Regions from separate parts of the Homo sapiens genome. Here region 2 is linked to region 1. Evidence: fine-mapped expression QTL. A gene starts in region 1. The other region holds a variant in brackets. All regions are shown on one strand. Distances are between the middles of the regions. Region 1 holds the start of LINC00941 (long intergenic non-protein coding RNA 941). Region 2 holds the start of IPO8 (importin 8).

Region 1 (2,899 bases):
GGATACAAAGGGGTTAGGACGAAGAAAACGGACTTCCTAGAGTCCCGACTTGAGGGCTTGACTTCAAGAAGAGAAGAGAAGTCTGAAACGGGGGCGAGAGCAAAGGCAGGGGGTTGGGGTGGTCGGGGGGGGGCGGCGATTATAATCGACTTTTATGGCTTGACGGCCAGGGCAGAAATTAAATTTGGGGGCCGGCTAAGGCTAGAGAGTAAGGTGACGGCTCGCCCCGCGGGTTTGGAGCTGTGCGCTGGGGGCCAAGGGAGCAGCGGGAGGAGCGCATGCCTGGGGCGCACGGGCCGGGAGGGGCGGGAGGAGAGCCCAGTCCCCAGCTCAGATTACTCTCCTAGGCATGGTCCCCACCAGAGCCGGGGCTGGAAGCTGGAAATCCGAGTAGAGCTGACTCGGACTTAGCTGCCCAAGGGAAAGCCTCCGGGCGGTCCTCGCTGCGCCCCTAGTCCGGGGCCCCGACCCCTCCCGGACACTGCTTGGGCCATGCGGGCGCCGCGTTGCCGGCCACTCGTCGTCCCGGGGTCCCAACTGGGGCCGCTCCTGCTGTTCTAGAGCTTGCTGGCCCCGGCGCGCCTCTCTTGCAGCTCCTGTACTACTCGAGGGGACCACGTCGTCCCGGAGGCGCGGCCATCGAGAGGATGCTGCGGCCGCGGGGCGGCGGGGGCGGGCGTTTCAGGGCTACTCACCCGAGCTGGGAAGGCAGGAAGTCTGTGCTGGCTGGGGGTTGGTCTCAGAGGGACTCTGGGGCTTGGACACAAAAATCGCGGCGCACTGGGGAGGACACCCGGAGCGGTGGGAACTGCGGTGTGGACCCGGGAGAAAAGGGGGTTGGAGGTGGGGGGAGATCGCGCGGCACGCGTTGCATAACCTGACCTGCCCTCCTGGGCTGGAGGCAGGAGTGACACCTCCGCCTGAGCCGCAGTTCAGAGAAGGCTACCGCGGCGCTGGGTCCTGCGGGACAGCCAGCAGGGCTGGGGTGGAATGGGGGCAGGGGAAGGAGCCCTGAGAGGAGCCAGGATGGGTCTGGACCTGGCTCCAAGTCGCGTGCCCTACACACCCCCTCTGCGCTGCCCAGCGGGGCACGGCCCGACCTCGGAAGGCCCATCCGGCTCTCAGAAGTGGCCGCTCTACCAGCTGCCCATAATGCTGCCGAGGAGCCTGTGCCAGTCCCACGGCTGCCGTGCAGCAAGCGGGCGGCCCGACTGACTTCAGCCACGTCCCCTGCGTCAGACAAGTGGGCGTCCCCTGCGTCGAGACAAGTGGGGGATCCGCGAGGCCTGCAGGGGCGCAGGGACCAGAGTGCTAAGACGTGGCATGACCTTTCAGGGAGAACTGCGCAGAGGGTGGCCAAGGGTCACCTCCCTCGAGGGGCGAAGCCCTGAGATGTGAGGATGATTCTTAAGACAGCGCCCTTCCCGCCCCTTCCAACCCCCCAGACCACCACCCGGGTCTGGGAACAGGGTGAGCGCATGGCGAGAGGTTGTCTGGTTTTGTAGCTATCAAGTTGTACCCCCGCTGTGCCCATAGGAAGTGACTCATCTGCTTGTCAGGTAGTGGCCTTGCTGTGAGCCAGGACCATATTAAGAAAAGAAAGAAAAAAAGGAGCAGCAAAACACTGTGCCCCTGCACAATGTGCTCTCCTTTCTTCTGCCCTCCCTCTCCTAGGCTGTCCTCTTCTTCCTCCACTTGTAGTTTGCTCAGCCCCCTCCCATCCACTGCCACCCCCGCCCAGTTGAATAATGCTCGTATCTGAGTCAGCGGATGTGAAACAAAGGGTTATTTCTCCTTATCTAATTTTGTGGAAGATTGACTAAAAGAGGGTGGAGAGTGTGTCTATTTAGCAGGAAAAAGATGTTTTTAACGTGAATAATATTGAGAAATGTGCTGTGACTTTCACTGTTGGGCAAAGCAGGGAGACGCCTGCCTAGCTGGCCCTTCCTGCAGGCTTGGTAAAAAGTCCTCTCCGGTGGAGGGTTGGTGGCCATTTGTCAGGTACCTAAAGAATACAAGGCGCTATGCTAGGAACTAGAACTGTACAGAAATATCCCGAAGGCTCTAATGTCATGGGACCTAACTCATTTCGGAGGAAGTAAGGCTTGAAGGTAGAGAACTATCTTGCAAGGCCGCCTGTGGCAAGCTCTTTGCACAATCAGTGAATGTACAGAAATCCAGGGTAAACAAAAATTACTTCCAACTGGGATATACTTCATAGAAAAGGCATCTGGGGTGGGGCGCAGTGGATAACGCCTGTAATCCCAGCACTTTGAGGGGCTGAGGTGGGTGGATCACCTAACTTCAGGAGTTCCAGACCAGCCTGGCCAGCCTGGCCAACACGATGAAACCCTGTCTCTGCTAAAAAAAATACAAAAAATTAGCTGGGCGTGGTGGTGGGTACCTGTAATCCCAACTACTTGGGAGGCTGAGGCAGGAGAATCGCTTGAACCCAGGAGGCGGAGGTTGCAGTCAGCCAAGATGGCGCCACTGCACTCCAGCCTGGGCAACGAGAGCAAAACTCTGTCTCCAAAAAAAAAAAAAAAAAAAAAGAGAAAAGAAAAAGAAAAGGCATTTGGACAGCCCTGGGGTTGGCAGAAGACTTCCGGATGGTAGAAGCCAAGGTCCTTGGGTGGGACAGGATAAGGTATGTGGCTAGAGTGGAGAATCTGTGTGGCAGGAATGTGAGAAAAGATGCCAGAAAAGGAGATAGGGACTCCTCTGTGTGTGGCATGGGAACTGGGCTTTGACTTTCATTGCATAGTGAAGCAACTGAAAGTCATGAGCAGGGGCACAGCGTGGCTCCAGAGAGGGCTGGAGAGAGATGCTTGCTGGCCATATTTGTCTGCAATCTTCCACTCTTCTTTCTTCTTACTCTACCCTTTTTTTTTTTTTTGAC
Region 2 (2,899 bases), 99 kb after region 1:
GACTAAGAACTGAAGTAGTGATTGAATTGGAAAACAAGCTTAGAATTTTTGAGGAAGAGAGAAATGGAAGAATTAGTTCTAATTATAAAAGAGGATATTGGAGTTAAGATTTTCAGAGATAAAAAATTTTTTAGACATTCATGATGTCCAAGAGAGTGGTTTAGTGAAATAGTGTTCATAAGACTCTGGAGTGCTAAGTTTATATTTTATTTTGAAATTGATGAGAAATCAAGGAAGAGACATAGTAATATTAACTTTTCAGAAACTTTCTTCTGATGATAGTGTGAATAATGGATTAAAGAGGGGCAATACTGGAAGCAATTAGACATGTTAAATTCACTGTGAAGCACTTTTGCATCCAACTGAGGGGGAAGCTTTCAAGCCACCAAGTTTTCAGCCACATGTTTTCTACTCTCTCAATTGAACTCAGTTAATTGACCCAATCTATCTTAATTATCTGCTCCTGAAAAGATCACAGCCCCTCAGCTGTGTTTTGCCCACATCATCATCTTTATTAAATGTAATTAGAACCCTCTCTTCTGGGTTAACCTCAGGAAGAACCAGCTCCTTGATATTTTCATGCCATTGAAATTGTGGCGCCAGATATGGCCACAGTGGATAGAAACAGTATAACTTTTCTGCTTACCTTTCACTACATTTTTGAGAAGGTCTGAAAATTTTTCATAAAACTCTCAGGGATGTAGTTTTCAGTTTCTGTGACCTTTGTCTTTCTGAAATGGGAGAGGTTCCCTTGTCCCCCTCACAGGGCGTGCATTGGGGGTGTGGCTCGCTTCTTCAGTGCCCCGCTGCTCAGACCTCTAGAGAAGCATACAGACCGGCAGGCTGTGGGGCTCCGACCCCTTGACAGAGTCTGGGGGTGAATGTTTACAGCTCCTGAAGCCCCAGTGGGTGTGTGTTACAGGATGCTCTTTCAGTTTGCCTTTAGGGGGCTTGTGTTAACCAGCTCAATTAGACCCTCTACCTTGTCGCACAGACAGCGAGCTTTCTGTATCCTGGGTTCTTGCCTTGGTGTACCAGAAGAATTGGATCACACGTGGGCTTGGAGAATGAGTGCAAAGTTTTATTGAGTGGAAGTAGCCCTCAGCAGATGAGGGACCCAGAAGGGAAATGGTTTTCCTCTGGAGTTAGGCCGCTTGGCGGCCCGGGCTCTTTTCCGACTGCCCAGGCCAACCTCCGCATCGTTCTGCCCGTGAATGGCCTGCGGATGTGCCAGCGAGCTCCTCTTCTTCCACCCTTATGCTCCTCTGGACGTCTGGCTGCCTGTGTACCTGCCTGCTAGGGTCTGGGGTTTTCATAGGCACAGTATGGGGGAGTGGCAGGCCAGGGTGGTCTTGGGAAATGCAACATTTGGGCTGGAAGGCAGGAGTGTCAGTCCTCACCTAGGTCGGTGGGCGTGGAGCCCTAGCAAGGGACCACACACTCCTCTACCCAGCACTTCACTTCGCCCAT[C/T]CCTATCATTTAAAGGGACCACGCTCTTCCCTTCCCAGCACTCCCCTATCATTTCTACACTGTAAATTTTTTTTGTTTATATTTGTCTCATCTATCAGGTTGTGAATTCCTTCACATTAACTTGCATGGAATTCATCTTGTTATAATGTGGTACCTAAAAATCCTAGTACTCTGGTTCAAAAATATATGTTTAACAAATGTTCAGTGAAAGCGAATGAATGAATGAACGATGACTCCCACACACGGAGGAACCCTGTCCTCCTGTAAGGTACATGATTTGAAGGTCCCAACAAGTCTATCTTGGAACAGGCCCAGTTGCGATGCCCATACAGTTCTCGGACTAACAAAAAGTGTCACACCATCCAGATATGCTTAATTTGGAAGCAGCTGTAAGCAGACTCCCGGCCAGCTCAAGTTTCCTCACCTGGGAAGAGGCGGGAGGCTGTTTACCGTACGGAAGCATAGCGGCCGCCTGCCTGAGTTCGGGAGCGCGGGTTCCTTTCCGGGAAAGAAGCCTAGGCCGTTTTCCGTACAGCAGCATGGCGGCCGCCGACGGGAGGCGGTCATAGCATCACGCCCGGGGGAAGAGGCCGCCGTAAAGGAAGCTCTGCTTCCTCTTCTTCCTTCTCCCGCCTCCCACCGGCTGTCGTAAAACGGTGAATGGAGAGCGAGTTGTGGGGGGGAAAAAGGGAGGACAGGGGGCGCGGAGTCAGAGTGGCGCAGCAAGTGGCCGCAGGTGGCGACGGTGGCGGGGGGTGGGGTGTGAGGTAATCCAGGGGTCGCGGAAGAGGAGGCTGAGAGGGTCAAAAGAAAACTAAAGCTGCAGTCCGGCCTACTGTTCCGGGGGCCGCGGAGCCCCCACCCGGGGAGATGGACCTCAACCGGATCATCCAGGCGCTGAAGGGCACCATCGACCCGAAGTTGCGGATTGCAGCCGAGAACGAGCTCAACCAGGTGAGGAGAGGGTCTTCGGCGACCCTCTTCCGCCGAAGGGGCGCCCCTGCCGGCTGGCCGGGCTCCCTCTCCCCGGCGCCCCTCGTCCTCACCCCCACCGGGCTGGGGCTGACGCCTCACGGCTGGTCCCGCTCTCCGACCCCGCTGCCCCCCGGTCCAGTGGAGCAGGGCTCCCAGGATCTTTGCCGAACAGCTCGCGCACCTGTTGGCCACCTTTGCACCTTTTCGTGTCGTCTCCCTTCTCCAGGGCAGTTTGTTCTGCCTACTTGGTCCGCAAGAAGCAGTTTTTGCAACCTGTGCTAGTGTTTTCAGGGTGTGATTTATTTTCCTTAAGTGCGCGGACTTGGGGAGCAGGTGGGAATTTTACTTACAGTTCAAATCTGAGTTCAGCTTTTTTCCAAACCCAGCCCTTTTTAGGTGTTGCTGTGGAGCACGCTGCCCACCGCCTCCTCCTGTCGGGTTGGCAGGACTGTTT

What was found. PIP is the estimated chance that this variant, and not a neighbour inherited with it, causes the effect.
Region 2: its variant is fine-mapped to the expression of LINC00941 in fibroblasts (GTEx, PIP above 0.99).

Annotation. Positions count from the first base shown.
Region 1 is chr12:30,794,013-30,796,911 of GRCh38, reverse strand. It overlaps LINC00941 (long intergenic non-protein coding RNA 941), which reads right to left and starts at 1,231. Exons shown (of 5, transcript NR_040245.1): 1 at 696-1,231. RefSeq lists enhancers at 440-941, 942-1,441, 1,944-2,443, 2,444-2,899.
Region 2 is chr12:30,695,089-30,697,987 of GRCh38, reverse strand. IPO8 (importin 8) reads left to right here and starts at 2,119. Exons shown (of 25, transcript NM_006390.4): 1 at 2,119-2,424. The coding sequence starts at 2,341. RefSeq lists an enhancer at 1,730-2,229 and a silencer at 2,320-2,369. The variant C/T (reference allele first, on the strand shown) is at 1,471.